2 separate regions of the Homo sapiens genome follow, and region 1 is linked to region 2. Evidence: fine-mapped expression QTL. A gene starts in region 2. The other region holds a variant in brackets. All regions are shown on one strand. Distances are between the middles of the regions.

Region 1 (10,385 bases), 48 kb before region 2:
GGTGGTACTGAAAACAGGGACTTGCTTCCCCAGGCTCAGCCCTCTTGTTGACAGCCAGGCCAGAGTCCGGCCCCATCCATGCCCTTAGGGGCCCCTCCGACCAGGCGATCCCTGCCCACCTCAGGTCCCAGAAAGTGTTCCTGGCCTCCACCTACGCTACAAGTTCCTCCTAGGCAGCCACCAGGCTTCTTCTGCAGCCTGTGGGGTGCCTATTCCAGGCCTGGAGGGAAACGGGGCCCTGTGGCCTGTGGTCAAACTGGTCACCCAGGTGGCTGACCTTGTTAGTCCCCCAATTTGGCACCTAATTAATGAAGAACACTACTCTTCTGAGATGAAAACAGCCTCAATATGAACACTCTAGTAGAAAACACGCCCAAGGGCAGGCCAAAGCAATGCTGTCCATAGAAGTTTCTACACCAATGGAGGTGTTTTAGACTATACCCCCACTGTCTGGCCACAGGTATCGTGGAGCACTTGAAATGTGGCTAATGAGACAGAAGGACTGAATTTTAATTTATATTCAATTTCAATTTAAATATAAACACAGTCACACAATGGGCAGAGCAGTTCCATAGGGTTTGTAAAACGCCAAGGGGGAAGCTAAGCCCTGGAGACTGAGTCATGTAGCATGTTTGCAATTCTGTTTCTTAGATTATGGTTGAACTAAGGGACCGGAGAGACCACAGCCCCCCTTCCAGTCACTGATCTCTGTTATAGTTTAACTGCTTCCTTCATTGTTCTTTACTAACTCAGATCAGATATCATCTAAGACCCAGGGACAATTACATCTTCAGTGTGGAATGTTAAACATACCTTTCCTGAAAGAAAAAGACCGCCTCAACTAATCAGAACATTGTGACTAAGCATCAAGACATACATAGGTGTCTGGGCATGGCGGCTCACGTCTGTAATCCCAGCACTTTGGGAGGCCGAGGAGGGCAGATCACTTGAGGCCAGGAGCTCAAGACCTGCCTGGCCAACATGGCAAAACCCCATCTCTACCTAAAAATACAAAAATTAGCCAGGCATGGTGGCACATGCCTGTAATCCCAGCTATTTGGGAGGGTGAGGCACAAGAATCTCTTGAACCAGGGAGGCGGAGGTTGCAGTGAGCCAAGATCCAGCCACTGCGCTCCGGCCTGGGCAACAGAGTCTCTGTCTGGCTTTGGCTGGATAAATGATCCCAAGCTCCTACATTTCGAACAGGAAGGCTGACTTCCATTCTTTGGAATTTGTGCTTCCTGGGTAGGCCTGTCCTCAACATGTGTGCTTGAATAAACTCTCTCTAAACTAGGTTCTGGCCTTTTCACTTATTTTAGATCGACAGATTCAAAGGAATTGTAGTAGCCAGCTCCACACTCAGGGCCACACCCAGTTAGGCGGCTGCAGTCCCAGGGGAAGCCACACGGTGGTGCTGTGAGGCACAGATTGAACCTGCTTCTGGGTCACTGGGGCAAAGGGACATCGTACCCCAGCTCTTGCCCTTTAGGGGTTCACAGGCCACTTGGAAGGTGCCCAAACCTGAAGGTGGGCCTTATCCAGTCCCTAAGACCATGGCAGGAAAGCCTGTAGACCTAGGTTCTCCTGCCTCCTCCTGCTGGAAGCAAAGGGAGGTTCCACTGAAGGAAGAAGGCCTAGGCTCAAGACACTAGAGGAAGCTTTATTCCTGGCTCTTTCTGGCCAGGCCTGCTCCACCTTACTGCTTCCCTCCCCTCCCCTCTTCCCTCCCTGGCCTTTTTCAGCCCTCACTGCCTCCCCAGCACCCCTGCCACAGGGCAACAAGCAGCAGCACAGCCCCACCCTGCCCATATCCAGTCTCATCCCCTTCCTGGAGCCGCAACTGCACCATGTCCTTCCCGACAGTAGGAGCCAGGTCTCCACTCCTCCCCTCTCCTCCTGAGGCTGGGCAAGGAGGCCCAGAGGTGCTTAAAGGCCCACCCCTGCCCCACAGGGCACCCTGGGGGCATGTCACCCAGCCCCGCTCCCTGCTGCCTGCTCTTTCTCATCCTGGAGGATAAGGGCTTCCACAATAAGCATGCCTGTATTCAGGGACCTGCCCGCTTGCTCCCAGAGGCACAGACAGGGTCAGGAAGCTGGATTGCCCAAGCCTGCTCTGGGCACAGCTGCATACAAGAGCTGAGCTCTCCACATCCACAGGGCTCAAAACCCAACCAGCCCAGCCCATACCTCCAGCAGCCAATACTATCATGTGGGCAGAGTACGCAAGAGCTGTGTCTGTAAAGATTGACAATTATACACCTTGACACTGCACAAGAAATGCTTGTTGTCAGGGAACAGATTGGAGGAGGGAAAATGAAGTCCAACGAATCTGGTTTTGGCTGCCTGAAGCTCAGTGTCCTGCGACAGTTACACCTACCTTTTCGCTCCATGCCCACAGCCCGACTCCAAGGAAGACAACTCCAGCCAACTAAGCGGGGCAGAGGAAAGAGAGAAGGAAGTTAGGTTGGAAACCAGCACTGTGAACATGCTTCACAGAGCAAAGTCCACACTGCCAGGTAGGGCATGCTCCTAGCTCACATCCCACATGGCCCCTCAGGCCCCGCAGATGACAGATAACCTGAACCTACCTTCCTGAATATCTGGACAAACTCCTTCAACCTCAGATGACCCTATGCCCCAGGGAAGGAAGAGGAAAAGATCTCAGAGCGGACTCCACCCTGGAGAGACTATGGGTCACAGACATCAGGCTGTGCTGCTTCTTCCCCTTTCTGCAACCCTGAACTCATTTCAGTGCACTATCTGGTGTATACGAAGACATCACCCCTTGGGAGGGCTGACCCAGGTCCCCTCAGAGGTTCCCAACACAGGATGAGACTGCATAGGACCAGGCACCACCACAGGGTGAGGACAGGGGGAAACAGCCCAGCATCTCTGCCACACACCCCAGCTCTCCAGCCCTGGAGATAGACTCCAGGCACAGATAAGCAGCTATCCAGTGGCCCAGGCCATTCACTGGCCAGGGCTGAGCCTCCTCCCTACTGTTAACTACAATGAGCAGGGGGCGCATCTATGCTCAGGAAAGGCTGGGCTTTTAGCTAGAGAATGAAAATAGGCTTGCTCTAAGCAATGAGCTCGCCCCAGAGGAGCACCACCCCCAACCCCAACTTCCCACCTGCAGGAACCCATACCCCATGTGCACCACAACAGAAAGGCGCCCACCCAAATACATCACACAGGTTCCTGAACCAGGGAGGGCTTTTCCATATACAACAAAACACAACGTGGGCTCTGTTAATAAAGCTGCCTCCTGTTTTTCTGTGACTACTTTACACCACACTGGCATTTCACTGCCATTTATCACCATCTCACGATAAATAACAGGACCACGCTTCTCTATGACTACCGGTGATCTCAAGCCTTGAGCCACTTCTACCTATTTTACTCAGTAACTAGCCCCAGGGGCTAGAATGGAAAGAAAGGGCTCAAGGAAAGCCCCAGGAAGTCTCATCCAACCTGAAAGTGATCTGTGATCCAACCTCTTCTGGATCACAGATCACTTTCAGAAAATGCACACATGCCCAGTATTTTGCATGAAATTTTAGAGGGGTCACAGCTTCCCACTGCTGGCTCCCACAATGGTCTGTGAACACTAAGTAAAGAACCCCCACCAAGAACCAATCCCTCCATTTTACAAAAGCAGAGCACTGGGGCCCAGGGAGGGCCAAGACCAAAATGTCAGGCAGTGGGGAGAAGGGCTGAATCACAAGTCTCAGTTCATTCATTCACTCCTCACTCATTCATTCAACAAATATTCACGGAGTACATCCCGAGTGCCAGATACCGTCTCAAGTACTGGATACAGCACCAAGCCAAGGGGGTAGAGCCCTTTCTACCATATCACACCACACCCTTTTCCCGCTTCTCAGTCCTCCCCCTGAACTGACTAGCTGGGAAGGGTTTTCCTGATAGAATGCATGACCGCTTCCTTTCCCTCCCCAGGTGTCTTACACTGGCATGCTGAGCAACCTGAAGGTGACTGGTCACCACCTGCCGAATCCTGCAGGCTCCATCCCCACCCATCTTATTCAAGGCCCCCAGGGACCTGCCTCCCTCTTGCCAAAGCTGGAGGCCAAGACTTTTCCTCATGGTATCTGACCTCATTGGTCACAGCTGGTCATTCTCTCCTCCTCCAACCATTCCACTGACACACCCTGCTTCGGGGACCCCAAGCATATGCCCCTGACTGCCTTCCTCCCTGCTCTTCCTCCTCCTCCTCCTTCAGACCCCTCTAGATGCTGGTGGGCCTCACTCACAGTCCTAGCTCCTTCACCCTGCCCTGAGCCCTCTCGATGATCTCATAATTCACAAGGCTTAAATACCATCTAAACATTGCTGAGTGACACACTCAGATGTCCAGTCCTGGCCATGCCCCCGGTCAAATACCCTAATGTCTACTTTACTTGTCCTCCTAAGACAGCTAACGATATTTTACTCTTACTGTGCCCCACTACGCAGCCTTGGTCCCCCAACCCCAACCGAGCTC[C/A]CCCCAACTCTTCTCCGTCTCATTCAGTGGCACCACCGTCCACCCAGCAAGTGTAAGAGAGAAAACCCAGACCCCAGGCTTGGTGCCTTCTTTCTCTTTTGCCCTACACTCAACCCAGAGGACCCTCTGCTGGTTCTGCCTCCAAATACACAGTGCATTCGACCAGCTTTCCTCCAGTGTCTCTGCTCCCACCTGCCCCGGCTCCACCCACTCGAGTCTGGATCCCACGGGGCTCCTCACTGGTCCAAGCAACAAGACTGACCCTTCAAAAATACAGAGCTGGGAACTCCCCTCCTCGAAACTCTGCAGTGACTTCCCACGCAGACCTAGAAGAAAATGCACGGTCTCTCCCATGGCCCCCAAGGGCCTCTGCAGCCAGGCTTCACACACATCTCCCACGGCATCTCCTTCCCACCTCCCTGCTCCAACGCCACTCCCTGGGCCACCCTGACATTCTTGTTTCTTGAAGTCATCAAAATCACCCCTGCCTCAGAGCCTGGACACTGTTCCCTCAGCCGGCAATGCTCTTCCTCCATATCCATTCCTGGCTCCTCCCTCACTGCGTTCAAGGCCTCCTTTTACCACCCTGAGTGGAACTGCTCCCCATCCTCCATGTGTGACCTCCTCTGTTGATTTTCTTCGCGGCACTGATCCCAGACCACAGGGGCTGTCTCTCTATTGTGTCTCCCCAGCTAAGCCCTTCTGAGGCCAGAGATGTTACCTGTTTTGTTCAGAGTTGCAGCCCAACAACGAGGAGGGCTTGGCCCTCAGTAGGCACAGAGCAGGCATGAGTGACTCCCCAGGATTCAAGACCAGGACAGTGCTTGCCTGGGTCCTTCTAGCTACCCCCAGGCACACTTCTGGGTGTGATTCAATCCAAAGGCATTCAGAGCAAATGTGGGCCAAGAAAAGCTCAGCCTGGCCCAGGTGCATGGGTCAAGCTCTATACAGGGGCATTTGCCTATGGTCAGAGCAGAACAAGCCCAGAGGCCGATGCCCCATCCAGCATTCCCAACAGACATTCCAGCCCCTGCCTAACAGCTTTCCATGACAGTCCGCTCATCCTGTGGGGCCACATGGGACAGGTGAGAAAAGTCTACCTTAAGGACACTCAACAAAACCACTGCTGGAGCTCCCCTCTCTCCTCCACACTGCACTTCACAGCTCACCCCTTCTCTCACCTTGACTACTAAGTCTGACTTCTAAGGGTATTGTTTCCCACATTAATACCAGCCTCAGGCTGAGAACAGTGGCTCACAGCAATTTGGGAGGCTGAGGCAGGAGGATTGCTTGAGCCCAGGCGTTCAAGACCAGCCTGGGCAACATAGCAAGACCCCCATCTCTTAAAAAAAAAAAAAAAAAAAAGGTTTTCTAAAAAAATTAGCTGTAAAAAAAAAAATGCCTGTATTCCCAGCTACCAGGGAGGCCGAGGTGGGAGGACTGCTTGAACTTGGGAGGTCAAGGGTGAGATTGCACCACTGCACTCCAGCCTGGGTGGTAACAGAGTAAGACCAGGTCTCCCAAAAAAAAAGAAAAAAAAAAAAAACAGCGTCAGTTCCATCTATATTAATAGGTTTCTGTGAATTCACGCTGAGGTGCTGTTTTAGTTGTTTTGTTCTCCTAGGTGACTAAATAGTGACTAAATAGATACAATAGGAAGAGGTGACTGGTTTCACAAAAGGAATTTTGGTCTGCACAAGTTCTCAAAAAAGACCCTCGACCTCAAGAGCAGTTCATATCCCCACCCTCAGGGGCACAGTGCCCATGCAAAGGTAGGCCTGCTCCTGCTCACCTCTGTTCCAATCGCCCCTTCCCCACATGCAGGGCCGCTGTAGGGCCGCTTACCGCTCTGCATATGGCCCACAGACCACACCCTCCCTCGCTTGCTGTTCTTCTCAAGGCCCCCAGGGAAAGCCCTGGCTGACTCTGTGTTTACTGGGGAAGCCAGCTCCCCACCACTGCGTGCAGTTCTCTTTCTCTCAGCTCTAAGAATAAGGACTTGGCCAGGCGTGGTAGCTCATGCCTGAAATCTCGGCACTTTGGGAGGCCGAGTGCTGGGAGGCCCAGCACTTTGGGAGGCGGATCACCTGAGGTCAAGAGTTTGAGACCGGCCTCACCAACATGGAGAAACCCCATCTCTACTAAAAATAAAAAATTAGCCGAGCGTGGTGGCACATGCCTATAATCCCAGCTACTCAGGAGGCTGAGGCAAGAGAATCACTTGAACCTGGGAGGTGGAGGTTGCGGTGAGCCAAGATCACGCCATTGCACTCCAGCCTGGGCAGCAAGAGCAAAACTTCGTCTCAAAAAAAAAAAAAAAAAAAAAAAAAAAAAAAAGAATAAGGCCTTGTGTTGTTTTCATTCTGTTTTAAAGGAAGAACTAAAGTTAACTCACACCGGAAAGACAGGAACTTGGGGATCACATGTCAGATCATGGGTTCAATGAACAGTGGCCCAGGGCAGGAACTCTGAGTACCAACAAACCTGGTTTCAGAGACCAGGAGATTGAGGGAGGACTAGACAGGGGAAGTGATCTGCCTGAGAGCTCACATAACGGTCCCATGAATGAACTGGGTCATTGGCCCGCTTCACCCCACGGAACCCTTCCCTGGAACTCTGCAGCAGATGGTCCATGGGGCCAGGCCAGGTAAGCCCTGGCTGCTGTGAGCCCTGGCTGCCAATCTTCTGGGAGTGAGGGTTCAGCTGAGTGCCCTCCAGCCTCAAGTGACCTTCTTTGTCTCCCTCCCATGACCTAATTGAATTACCTACTGAAGAACGGGGCCCAGCTCCGGCCCAGCTTGAGGAGAGGCCAGCCTCCTCTGCTGGACCAGCGAGCACCTAAACTGCTATGGTCACTGTGAATAGCTGCCCTTTCCTGGGAGCTGTGCGCTGCATTAAATACTTAATGGACCTAAGGCTATCCCTCCATATCCCATAACTCTGGCTCAATTACCCTCATTTTTCACATGGGAAAGCTCAAATGTAGAGCAATTTGGTCCTTTGCCCAAGGTCACACGGCTAGCTGGTGGCAGACTTAAGAACCAAACCTGGATGCCTCTGACCCTGGCAACACAGTATCTTACCACCCACAGAGCAGCTGCCTTCCACACACGGGCACTCACACAAGAGCCCGGGGATGTAGGAATTCCACAGGGGGGCTTTGGGGTTGTGCAGCTCTACAGCCAAATGACCCACACTGTCAGGCAGTGAGACCACGCTGTGTCCCAACCAGGGCAGGTGGACAAGGCAGCAGGGCCTCTTTGTGGGTCACTGTGAAGATTAAATATTGACCTTTCACCTTAGGCAAATGACCTTGCGAAAGGCAGGAGGTCCTCTTGGGGCACTCTGGGCTGGTCCAGCCAGAGTCCAGACACAAGAAATCCACTTACCACACGAGCAAGCTTGTGGTACTTTACCCAAGCACAATCAAGTCACAAAAGGAAGTGACACCCGGCCAGGCCCTGCTGAACTGGAGGAGAAAGATGCAGCTCCAAGCAGGTCAAAGGCAGCCTCTCACCCATGATTTAATGGCCTTGGCTCCTTGCAAGATTTCATTTAAGCGTGTATAAAAGTACTTGGCAACTCCTGCAGGCCCCAGAGGCCTTTCCTCAGCAAGATCAAGGCGAATCACCAGCAGCAGGCGATGCTCTCAGGCTCTGCCCTGCTGGCCTCCGGGTCTTGCACAATCCACACGCTGACTCAGCCTGACATTCACAGAGCCTCTTCCCCTGAACAAAGCCGGCCCTGGGTCCAGTCTCTGCTTTGTAGCTACCTAGTGACAGGGCCTCATGCGAGTCCAAGACCTTCTCTGAGCCTATGTTCTCTACAAAACAGGGATTATCTTTCCTAGGTCACAGGAAGGTTGTAAAGATTGAAGGAAGATCCTACGTGACATGCTTACTCCAGGCACAGAGCCAGTCTCAAGGTGGCCATGCCCTCCCGCACGGCAGACAGAGCAGAGATGTGAGGGGCGTTCAAGGATATGCCACAAGCATCTGCTGTCCTGAAGACAGAGTCTCCTTCTCTTGACACTGGTGTTCTGTACCCCACCCCCAATTACTTCCAGCACCAGCTTCTGTCCTAAGACCAAGTGCTTTCCAGAGGCACCTGTTTTACTGGGCTTCTGGAGACAACAGTGAAGCAGAGCTTAGGGAAATACGGCCTTCTGGAGGCTTTTCAAGTGAGGTAGGAAAGGATGATGGAAAGAAAACAGCAGAGAGTGGAGGAAGCCAGGACTGAGTCTCAGCTTTGTCCCTAACTCACAGAGTCAGGGTCTCGAGGAAGCCATCCCTCTCCTGGGCCTCAGTCTGTCAATCAGCAAAATAAGCAGCAAGGACCCATGCACCTCCCACTGGCTGAGTTTTGCCATTATAAATTACACCAGACGGAAACCCCAGGGTCCTGGTACTCTCCAGAATAAGAAATCCTGAATCCAGGCCTGGGGCATTCAGGAAACAACAGAGATGCTTGTGGCCACTTGAAATGCTGACGATTGAATAGAATTTGAAGCCAAAAAGGACCAGAGGGTGCAGACCCCAGACCCAACCTGGCCTGAGAGCCCAGTGGGCCAAGGGAGGAGCTGCAGTTATCTGTCCTGTGTTGAAAGCCTGAACCAAGCCACTTGTCAGTGGGAGTTCGGAAGGTCTGGGAGCCAGAAGGGATGCTAGGGCTCGGCTTCCTTATGACAGAGGGAAACAGAGCCCAGAGCAGGAGGTGCCTTGCATGGGGTCACATAGCTATCACACCCCAGCTTTTCCTCCTGCCGGAAGGGTGGTTCTGAGAAAAGGCAACACATGTGCCCTCCCAGCAGAGCCAGCAAACCCATGTGAGGGCCCCAATGTGGGGAAGGACTGTGCAGAGGGCTCCAGGGGCAGCTTCCACAGCTGTCTCTGTGTTGCCAGATAACAGAGTTGACCCCCACTGAGCCCCGCCCAGGAACCTGAGTCAAGGCCCTGGAAATGAAGGCAGGCGGAGGGAGCACAGCCATTCAAGGGAGGTGATAGGCAGTACCCCCAGGAGAGAGGGAACCCCCCAACCTAACTTTGGCACAGTTCACAGTGATTAACAGTGGGTAGAAAATCAAGATACTAAGGCAGTGGTCAGCATTTCTGTAAAGGGCCAAATAGTAAATATTTTCAGCTTTGTGTGCTGGATGATCCCCGTAGCAATTACTCAACTCTGCTGTTATAATGGGAAAGCAGCCATAGATAATACATAAATGAATGGGTGTGGCTGTGTTCCAATAAAATTGTATGTGTAAAAACAGGCGGAAGGCCAGGTTTGGCCTGCAAGCCATAGTCTGAAAAGCTCAGCTGTAAACTATCACACTAAAACCATCTGGACCTGGAGAGGAAAGATGGGATGTCATCCTGCTCAGCCACACAAAGCCTGGGATACCCTATACTCAGGTCTCCAACACTGGTATGTTTTTATATCACTGTAACAGGTCTTAATAGCCTAAAACTGTAAATAACACAAATTATATATCCCCACAATAGAATATTACACAACAAGAATAAATGATCTACAACTACGTATAACTGCATGAATGAATCTCACATATGATATTAAATGAAAGATGTCAGACACAAAAGACTTAATACTGTTAGGGAAGAATACTTAGTAGAAAAACTATAACTAATATCCAATCAAAAGTTACTAGATAGGCAAGAAAAGGAAAGAAGTGAGCTATAAGAGAAAAAATTCAGTAAATAGAAGACACAAGAATGACAAAGAAGATGAAATCCCAACAACTTCAAAACAAGTATTGCAAATATGTTCAGGAATTTAAAGGAAAATATAAATAAGATAAGGAAAGAAATTGGAGACATAAAAAATACCTAAATGTAACGACTAGAAATAGAAACTACAATATTAGAAT
Region 2 (10,385 bases):
AAGCCCAAGGGCGGAGGAAGTGAGGTTCCCAGAATCAGCTGCTGGTGAACACTTGCTGAGTGCCGCCAGAGATGGCAGCTGTCTCACACCAGTGTCAGGCCTAACTCAGGGGCTTTGGATCTTGCTTCTCAGGGTACTAATGCTTCACTGCAACCCCGTGAGACAGAAAAGGCAGACTTGATTCTTCTCACTTTACAGATGAGAAAAGTAGACAACTTTTTTTTTCCAGGAAGAAAAAAAAAAAAAATCAAAGACTTGTGTAGGTCACTCAACTAGAAAGTAGGTGCAACTTGAAAGCTTGCCTCACCACCGTCCACTCTGCAAGCTGGACAGTGTTATTCATCTTCACATCTTCACGTTTAATTGAGAGCGGCACTGGACACTGCCCCCCTGCCAGGGCCTGCGCTCCACCAAAATGGCTACTTGCCCTGTCTAAATCAAAAGCATACGCAATTAAGGGAGAAAATGGATGTGGAGATATTATGAATAACCTCCCTGATTCACAGTTACAGAGGACACTACTATAATGGAAGATAAGCAAACTGAAACGCTGGCATTCACCTAGACCAAAGACTCTCAAAACTTCATTCTACGCAGCTCCCTGGGTACTCTGATAGCCTGCCAAGAGTGAGACCACTGCTGGAGACCACCACCACCTCTCAATCCACTGGCAGAAAAACGGAGGCCCTGGAAAAGGTGGAAATATGCCTAAGCAGAGTGAGTTAACCATGAAGCAGAAGAACCTGAGGCCTCACCACCTCCAACAGTGTCTGCTGGCCCCGAGGGAAATCACCAGAGACCAAGCAGGTGACCAGGCACAAAATCAAGAGCCACAGTGTGGCTGACTCTTCAAAATCCTACTAACGTGGCCTGAGGGGGAAAATTTAACTAACAGGGTTCCTACTCCCTTCTACAGACCAGGGATCTAGCCCCACACTCAATCCCATCCCCAGTGGGAGTCCACCTTCAGTCACCTCGCTACCACTGCTTTCTACACCCCTATGCCTGCAAGCTCAATCCCCGAGTCCCACAAAAGTGGGGAGGACCAGGCCTGCCTGGGTATCGCTACCTGCTCCTGCTTCTAGGAAAGGTGGCTGCCCCTACAGGCCACATCCAGGTAGCGGATGGAACATGCAAGATATCCAAGGACTGACACGGCAGGGCAGAGACAGGCAGCAGGAACCTAATCCCCTTCCCATAGGCATCTTAAAGGCCACCAGGACTCAGTGGCAGGACACAGGGATCATCATGTTCTCTGTCCCTCTGTCCAAGCCACCAGGGGTGTTCCCACTAATCACTATGGGTCCCCCCAGTGAGGACAACATAAAGCAGATAAGTGATGAACATGCAGTGTGAACAAGAAATAAACCTCTGTTGCTTTAAGCCTCTGAGACCTGGGGATTGCTGTTACCACAGCAAACCGTGATCTGTCCAGACAGACACAAGCAGTGACTCCCCAATCTTCTGCATGTGGTAGTGCTGGTCTTCCCATTCCCTGGCCTTAGGGAGACAGAAGCTCCATCACCAATCAGCGGGGGTTCCGGGGTACCTGCTATGTGCCCAGGCTGTGCTGGACAGATGAGATGTGTTCAGAGGCAGGGATACAAGGGCACCTTCACTGAAAACATTCATTAGTTCCACTGTGGGCCAGGCTTGTTTGGTATATGAATCCATTTTAATCACCTCTGAGAGGAACATATTGTCTAAATTAGAAATGAGAAAACCTGGTCCGGCACAGTGGCTCACGCCTGTAATCCCAGCACTTTGGGAGGCCGAGGCGGGCGGATCACTTGAGGTCAGGAGTTCAAGACCAGCCTGGCCAACATGGTGAAACCCCATCTCTACTAAAAATACAAAAATTAGCTGGGTGTGGTGGTGCACACCTGTAGTCCAAGCTACTTGGGAGGCTGAGGCAGGAGAAGAATCACTTGAACCCAGGAGGCGGAGGTTGCAGTGAGCCGAGATCACGCCACTGCACTCCAGCCTGGGCAATAGAGTGAGACTCAGTATCAAAAAAAAAGAAATGAGAAAACCCAGCTCATATTGAGACTTCAAGCAAGTTACTCTGTGACCTCTCGGGACCACAGTTTCCTCATCTGTAAAATGGAGCTGTTGACATCACGGTTGTTTTGCTTTTTGTTTTTTGTTTTTTGAGATGGAGTTTCATTCTTGTTGCCCAGGCTGGAGTGCAACGGCGCGATCTCAGCTCACTGCAACCTCCACCTCCCAGATTGAAGCAATTCTCCTGCCTCAGCCTCCCAAGTAGCTGGGATTATAGGCATGTGCCACCACGCCCAGCTAATTTTGTATTTTTCGTAGAGACAGGGTTTCACCGTGTTGGTCAGGCTGGTCTTGAACTCCTGACCTCAGGTGATCCACCCACCTCGGCCTCCCAAAGTGCTGGGATTACAGGCATGAGCCATCACGCCCAGCCATCACAGCTGTTTTCAAGGATTAAATGAGTTATTACAAGTCAAACTTCTAGGGTGTAAGTCTCAATAAACTCACATTAGTATCACTATGAAATAATCTTGTCCTTCACTAAATTTTAAGCCAGCAAAGGTTTCCCAGGCCTGGCACAATGCCACTTTGCAGGCACTGCTAAAAGGAATTCTACCTCAGTTGAAGTTAAATGGGTCAAATTCCTGAGCACATGGTGGCATAGAGTGAGGCCTCAGGAAATAGTTCCAGAACCCAGGGCTTTCCTGCTCCCCGGCCTCCATGGGAACTTCACTTCACTGCCGCCACAACCTTCAGGGCAGAGCCATCTCCTCTCCCACTTCATACTGCCACTTCCTACATGAGAAGGACCTTCACCAGTCCTCAGAGACTAGCACAGCTGCCCAGCTGGTGAAGGGGACAATTCCCTGGGCAGCCAACCATTCTGCAGCTCCATGCCCTTTCTTCCTGGGGCAGCCACAAACCTTCAGAAGCACCCATGGGCTCAGACCCCCCCCACAACCCCGTCTCCCTAAATGATCCTGCTACGCTGAGATCAAGCTCAGATCAATAAACACTACTGAGCACCTATGCCATGTCCAGCCTGGGTTCTAAGACCACACCAAGTTCATAGCTGGTGAGGGACTTTCCAGACTTGGAATAGTGCCTGCAACAATGCCTCGCACCCCACAGAAATCTCAACCATGCTTTGTTAACTAAACTGAGGATGACATTAGGTGGCCCAAGCAGTGGAGTTCAGAGATGTGGGGATGGATATATCCAGAGTCTCCAACTGAAGTTGGGGTGCAACACAATGAGAAGGAAAGGGAAAATACATCTGGTGGCCCTGGGTTTCCAGGGCCTGTCACTATAACGTTAGGGATCGGAGTGGGATCAGACTGCGCGTGGTGGCTCACACCTGTAATCCCTGTGCTTTGGGAGGCTGAGGTGGGAGGATCACTTGAGCCCAGCAATTTGAGGCTATGATCACACCAGCAGCTAAGGGGATAGAAGGGCATACAGGGCCATTATGGTGGAGTCTGGGCTTCATTCTGGGGGTGCCAGGGCCCAGGAAGATCCCTGGAAAGACGGCCGCCCCCACCAACCACTCGGCTAGCTGAAATGTGGCAAGGACATAGGGGTGCTCCGATGGCCTGTCCCCAGGTTTCCCTTCACAAATAGAGAAGGGTGGCCGGAGCACTCAGCAGGCACTAACTGCTTCTGGACTTCAAGGTCAAGGGGCAAGGGGAAGGCTACTTTTGAGGATTTGGCAGGCCACTCTCTCACTAGCCCAAGAGCAACTCCCTCTCGGAAGGGAGGAAGATCCCCTGGAGAGCAGACCACTGCCAAGAGCACACCTGCAGAGGCTCCAATACAATGCTCTGCACAGCCGCCCAGCACCGCCTGACCTCCCGGATAGCAGCGCCAGCACAGCCAACGAGTGTGTGACACCGCCGCACTCACCACCGCTCTGCGCCCAGCCCCAGGCCAGTACCCGGGCCCACGACTTCCCCCGACTCCCCCTAGCACGGACTGTTTCTCGCCGGAGATCAACTTTAAGTCCCCAAGACAAGTGCTCCTGCGGTCCCAGGGCCAAAGTCCCTCCACACACCCTCACACAGGCACTTCCTACCCACCCGCACCCCACCCCTGGGGGTGGAGGAGAAGCAGCAGCGGCCCGGGACAAGCACAGTCCGCAGCCACAAACCTCACTCTACCAGAACTCCGGCTAGGTCAGGGGTCAGGCTTTGCTCCCAAACACAACCCCACACGACTAACGCGGAGAAGCTGGGTCACCGCCTACTCAAACTCCGGCCGTCCCAAACCCAAGCCGGGCAGAGTGGGACCCACGGCGGCGTGGGAGACTGAGCACAACCACGGCGGGGCAGGAGGAAGGGGCGGCCCGCCCCGGCCTACGCCCACCCCCACCCCGGACCCGATCTCCTGGGAGCCGAGGGTGGGTGACTGAGCCGAAAGGGTGGCCCATCCCCGAGCTCGCTGCTGGGGACGAGAAGCAGAGCCCCGAGCAGCAGCGGCCGTCCAGGCTCCCGTCGCCCTCACCCCGCCCGGCACGGGCGCGCACTCGCCGGGGCGCGCTGATGGGGCGAGGGCTACCGAACCAGGAGTGCCGGCCCCGGGCCCGCCGCGGCTCTCGTCCGCGCGGCGCCGGAGTTCGGCTCAGCGGGGTCCCGGCGGAGGCCTCCAACCTCTAGCGAGCAATCCTGGCAGACAAAGCCAGCGCCGCCCGCGGGGCCGCTCCTGGGCAGGCGGGGAGGGAGGCTGAGGGGCCAAACAGGGACCTAAGGAGCAGCCCTCGCCCCCGGAGAACGCTCGGGGAAGTCGGCCTCAGACAAAGAAAGGGGCAGGGCCCGACGCCCCAGCCAGGTCTCCGCGCTCTACTCACCCGCGCGCGGCGGCGGCAGCGGCGGCGCGGCCCGGCTCGGCCGAGGAAGTTAGAGCAAGTTCCGCGGCGCGGGGCGGGAGGGCGCGACTCGGGCCGTCCGAGCGGCGGGGGCGGGGCGCGGAGGGGCGCGGAGGGGCGGGGCCGGAGGCGCGGCGCCTGCCGTCTGCCGAGGAAGGGGCGCCGCTTCCCTGCGCCGCCCGGTGCGGCCCCGGGCGCCTGGGCCCGCCCTGGCCCCGCCCCTCCCCCAGCCGCCTCGCCCCTCCCCCACCGCACCCCGCCTCCCGGCCCGCGCGGCACCGGGGACCGCGAGGCCGGGTCGCCGGCCCGCCCCTTTGTCCCGCTCTGGGCGGTGCCGGAGGCTTGGGGCGGCCCCGGTCCGCGCCCTCCCAGTGGGTGCGCGGCGCAGGCCGGGCCTGGCCCGGGGCCGGGCACTTGTAGCCGCCGGGAGCGCTCTGAGCCGTTGCGCTGCGCAGACGCCGCTCTGGCCTTGTCGGAGCCGAACCTGGGAGAAGCACGAGCTGTGGGAGGCGGCGTCTCGAGGGATACACGGGATGACCGTGGAGAGCGGGCGAAGGATTAGGAAAATGGCTGTGGTGGAGATAAGAGGCGTTCCTGCCCGGCTTTGGAGCCTGGGGGCGGGGGTAGTCTTCAATCAAAAGAAGGATGGGGAAAAGGTTTTTATTTCTTTGTAAACCAAGGAGTAAGGACACGCTCCTTCTGGCCTTGGTGCTAAAAATACCAAGCTTTCTTTGGATCGTGGCTGAGATTTCTTCCTAACCTTTACGCTAAAGAGGTGGCTGGGACGATTCTTGTGGTGTAGGGGGGTTTCCAGGGACAGCCAGGGGTGGCGCCCCTCTTTGGATCGTGGCTGAGATTTGTTCCTCACCTTTACGCTAAAGAGATGGCTGGGACGATTCCTGTGGGGTAGAGGGGTTTCCAGGGATAGCCAGGGGCGGCTCCCCAGCCTCAGCCTCCCTACCTGTAGAATGAAGCATGCCACACCTCTGTTTCTTAAACTTATTCGGTGGCTGAGGGCCGAGTGGTCTTCTCTGTTGAGTAACACCAAACAGGGATCTATTAAAACTGGGCTAAGACTGGTTGCCACATGCCAGTACAAGCAACCAACAGGTTAATTCCAATGGAAGGAGGAAATCTTGAAATGGAGACTGTTCAGTCCATTCCCAGGTTTGTTTGGGTTGTTTTTTGAGCTAAGGTATCGCTTTGTCACCCAGGCTGGAGTGCAGTGGCATGACCATGGCTCACTGCAGCCTCGACCTCCCGCCTCAGCTTCCCCAAGTAGCTGGGACCACAGGTGCAGGCCACCACACCTAGCTAATTTTTTTTTTTTTTTTTTTGTAGAGACGAGATCTTGCTGTGTTGCCAGTGATGGTCTTAAATTCCTGGGCTTAAGCAATCCTTCCGCCTCTGCCTCCCAGAGTGCTGGAATTACACGCATGAGCCACGGTGCCTGGCTAATTTTATTTGTTTGTTTAATTAAGAGGGATGCAACCTGTCTGTGACAGCCCAGGCAGCTCTGGAAACTCCCTGGGAACCTGTCCATTCATTCAGCAGATAGTGAGTGTTTGTCTGAGTGCCTGATAATATGCCAGGCCCTGTGTGCATGGTGGGATACTTCAGTGAACAAGACAGCTGAGGCCTTTTGCCCAATAAAGTTAATTTTTAGTGGAGAAGACAAATACATAATCACAAGTTGAAGTAAAGGCTGGGACAAAAACAAGGGGCTAGAATAGAGAATAAAAGCTACCTTAGATGAAGCAGTCAGGGAAAGTGAGGAGGCGATGCTGAAATTGAAGTCAAAAGAGTAAGGAGTTAGCCTTGGGAAAAGTTGGGCAGAGACATTCCTCGCTGAGAGCAGTAGGTGCCTTTTCAGGGTAAGTTCTGGATGGGTCAGGGAACTGAAAGAAAATCAGTGTGGCTGAAGTTTTAAGCCTAGGGGAAGAGGCCCAGGATGGAGTGAGAAGGTGGGTGGGGGCCAAAGCATGCAGGGCCTGTGGGCTGTGTCAAAGAATGGAGACTTTGTTGAGCCTTGGAAGGGTTTTATGCAGAAGACTAACATGTTCTGATTTAAGGCTGTGTGTGGGTGTCAGGCAAAAATAAAAGCAGGGAGCCAATTAGGCTTGCCACAATCCAGGCCAAAGATGATGGTGGTTTGAACCAAAGTGGTGGTCATGCTAAGATGAGTAGTTGAGAGATGCTATTTTGGACTTAAGAGGACACATTGATAGGAAGGACATGGGGGCAGGAAATGGAGAAACCAAAGATAACTCAAGTTTCTGGCTGGGGTAAGTGGGTGGATAGTGCTTCATTTATTGGATCAAAAAGCATGAACCACATCTCAGGGAGTTACATCAGGAATTCTGTTCAAGCCACATGGAGCTTCAGATGCCTGTTAGAGAACCAGCGGGGTTATCTCATCACTAGGAACTCAGAAGAGAGGCCAGGGCGGGAGAGGGGCTTTGGGATACATCAGCATAAAGATGCTCAAGGCCACGGGATCTGAGAAGGACACACAGGGTGAGGGAGTAGATGCAGAAGAGGAGAGAGTTCAGGAGGGACCCAGGGGAACCAAAGCAGGCAAGAAGACTGAAAAAGAGACTGGGGAGGCAGAAGGAGAATCAGGAGTATCCCAGAGACTGAGAAAATGTTTCCAGAAAGCAGTTGTCAGCTGTGTTAGACACTGCTTAGAGATCAGGTAAGATGAGGACTGGGACCTGTTGGCTCTGGCAACATGAAGGCAATTGGTGAACATGATGAGGGCAGTGTTCCTGGAGTAGTGGTGGAAGCCATGCTGTGGTAGAGCTACCATATTTGCACAACTTGTCTAACAGGGAATGGAGAACTGGGAGGGATCTAGAAAGGATACGGAAGCATAGGATGCTTTGGTAGAGATTGCTAGATGCCCCTAGTAGTAATTCTCTCTTCCCTTCATAGAATTTCTAATTCTGTCTGGCCACATGGCTTCCCAGAATAAAGGCAAGTTTCTCAGCCTCTCTTGCAGCTACACTTCATTCCTCCCAATAGGAAGTAAGTGTAGGAGTCCATGTGCAAATTCAAAACTGGCTTTAAAGGGAAGTCATGTGCTTTACTCTTTCCTGCCCACTAGGATATATTAATAGATAGCTGGAGCTCAAGCATCCATATTGGATCTTAAGTGGAAGCCAAAGTGTTGAGGATGTTAGTGGAAGTGAGAATAAATGTGGATGCTAATGTGTAGGGAGCCACCACACATTTGGACTACTACCTCTTGACTTTCTTTATGGGAGAAGGACATTTCTGTCTTGTTTAATCCTCTGTTTTATGGCACATGTAGCCACATCTAATTCTAACATTTGTTGGAATAAAGAGGGGTTTGTTAAAATATGGGAGTCACTGAAGCAGGCTTGCACACTGATAGGAATGATCTAAGAAGAAGGCAGGGGCCATGATAGGAAGAGCAGGTGAAAGGAGATAGGGTATAGGCACTAACGAGGGTCACCTCCTACAAAGGGACGCCTCCACCATCATTAAGGAGAGGAGTGTGGAGGCCGAGGAGAGGTTTCCGGTAAAGGCTGGGATTGGGAAGATGATTACTCACACCTGGTGATTTCTGCTCAATCCTGCATGTGCAGGAGGTCATGAGCTAGAACAAGGAGGAAGGAGATGGGGAAGCCAGTTTTGCAAACCATGGACTGAGCGGTTTTGGAGATCTTGCTGGCCTGAGCAGCGTCTGGGAGATGTGTCCTTTCTGGAATAGTTGGCCACACTGCTGCTATGAAAAGTGTGGTGGGAATACCCACAAAGCCAGCATGGCCTTCCCTGCCATGCCCCAGACAGTCACATCTGACACTCACCTGCCATTCCCAGCTGTAGCAGAGACCCACAGAGCTTTATCTGACCCATTCTTTTTTTTTTCCTTTGAGACGGAGTCTCACTGTGTCACCCAGGCTGGAGTACAATGGCGTGGGCTCACTGCAACCTCTGCCTCCTGGATTCATGGGACTATAGGCACGTGCCACCACACCCAGCTAATTTTTTGTATTTTTATTAGAGGTGGGGTTTCGCTATGTTGGCCAGGCTGGTCTTGAACTCCTGACCTCATGACCTGCCCACCTTGGCTTCCCAAAGTGCTGGGATTACAGGCGTGAGCCACTGTGCCTGGCCTATCTGATCCATTCTTACAGCAACATGGAGTGGCTTGAGAGAGCCTCAGAGACACGAAATGCAAAACAGGTCTATTTTATTCTCCTTTATTAAAAAATAAAAAATTCAATATAGACAGCCCCAACTCATAAAAGGGTTGTATTGTAACCAGTGGTTTACCTTCCTGGCTAGCACCTAGAACCATAATTGCCAAGCATATAACTGAATTGTAGTGCAGACTGCAAGCCTAATGTATGGACTGTGGGAACAAAAAACAGTATAGGAAGGAGGAAAAGAAAAAAGCTGAGAGTTTCTTATCTTTTTCCTGGACCTGAAGCTGCCACAGATAAAATTGTAAGTGGAAGAGCTTGCCCTTTGTCTTCCCCTGACTTCTATAGCCCTCTGTGTCGGTCCCCAGTGCTGCACTCCCACCCTGGGCTCCACTCTGCAGCCTCTGTGTGTGTTTACAGGGCAATGGGCAGGTCAGGGTGAGATTGAACAGAAGAGGGAGTTGGTGTCCAAGCTCTCCTAGTTCTCAACATGATCTTGAGCAAACCACTTTACATTCCTGAGCCCTGCTGTTCTTATCTGTAAAGTCAAGGTAATACTAAAACCCACCTCACAAGCTTGTAATAAAAATCCAAAGAGATAAAGTTTGTAAAACTTCGAAAAATACTGGGTAAGCTGTAAAGAACTCTGTTACCCAGGAAAGATGTCTTATTAGGACCAGACTACCAAGGATTAGTCGGGACATTTTGGCTGGAAATGAGAACCCCACTCAGACTAGCTTAGGTCATCAAAGGGGAGATACTGGAAGGAGCCTCAGATTGCTCACAGAATTGAAAGAAGAACTTGAAACCAGAGTGACACAAAACGGGGCTGATCCTGACAACGTCCCAGAACGGGGGCCCTACCCTCTGTTTCTCCTAGTTCTCAGAGTTTGCCATGTCAGGTATGTGACTGAGTAAGTCTACACTCTTAAGTCGGTATGAACAAATCTCAAGAAAGGATCGACCGGGCATAGTGGCTCATGCCTGTAATCCCAGCACTTTGGGAGGCCAAGGCGGGCGGATCACTTGAGGTCAGGAGTTTCGGACCAGCCTGGCCAACGTGGTGAAACCTCGTCTGTACTAAAAGTAGGAAAATTAGCTGGGTGTGGTGGCGCATGCCTGTAGTTCCAGCTACTCAGGAGGCAGAGGTGAGAGAATCGTGCTTGAACAGGGGAGATGGAGGTTGCAGTGAGCTGAGATTGTGCCATTGCACTCCAGCCTGGGCGACAGAGGAAGACTCCATCTCAAAAAAAAAAAGAAAAAAGAAAAGAAAAGGATCCTAATTGGGTCAGCTCTGGTCACATATTCACTCCTGGACCCATTCTTACAGCAACATGGAGTGGCTTGAGAGA

Evidence for each region.
Region 1: its variant is fine-mapped to the expression of TSPAN14 in whole blood (GTEx, PIP 0.96).

Annotation. Positions count from the first base shown.
Region 1 is chr10:80,496,771-80,507,155 of GRCh38, reverse strand. TSPAN14 (tetraspanin 14) reads right to left here. Exons shown (of 9, transcript NM_030927.4): 3 at 2,378-2,428. Among named protein-coding and RNA genes, the nearest start is that of TSPAN14-AS1, 34 kb to the left of the region's middle. RefSeq lists a silencer at 7,029-7,323 and an enhancer at 8,839-9,802. The variant C/A (reference allele first, on the strand shown) is at 4,505.
Region 2 is chr10:80,448,830-80,459,214 of GRCh38, reverse strand. TSPAN14 (tetraspanin 14) reads right to left here and starts at 4,905. Exons shown (of 9, transcript NM_030927.4): 1 at 4,844-4,905. RefSeq lists enhancers at 993-1,072, 3,790-3,839, 3,870-4,129, 4,079-4,596, 5,340-5,549 and silencers at 4,260-5,309, 9,328-9,622.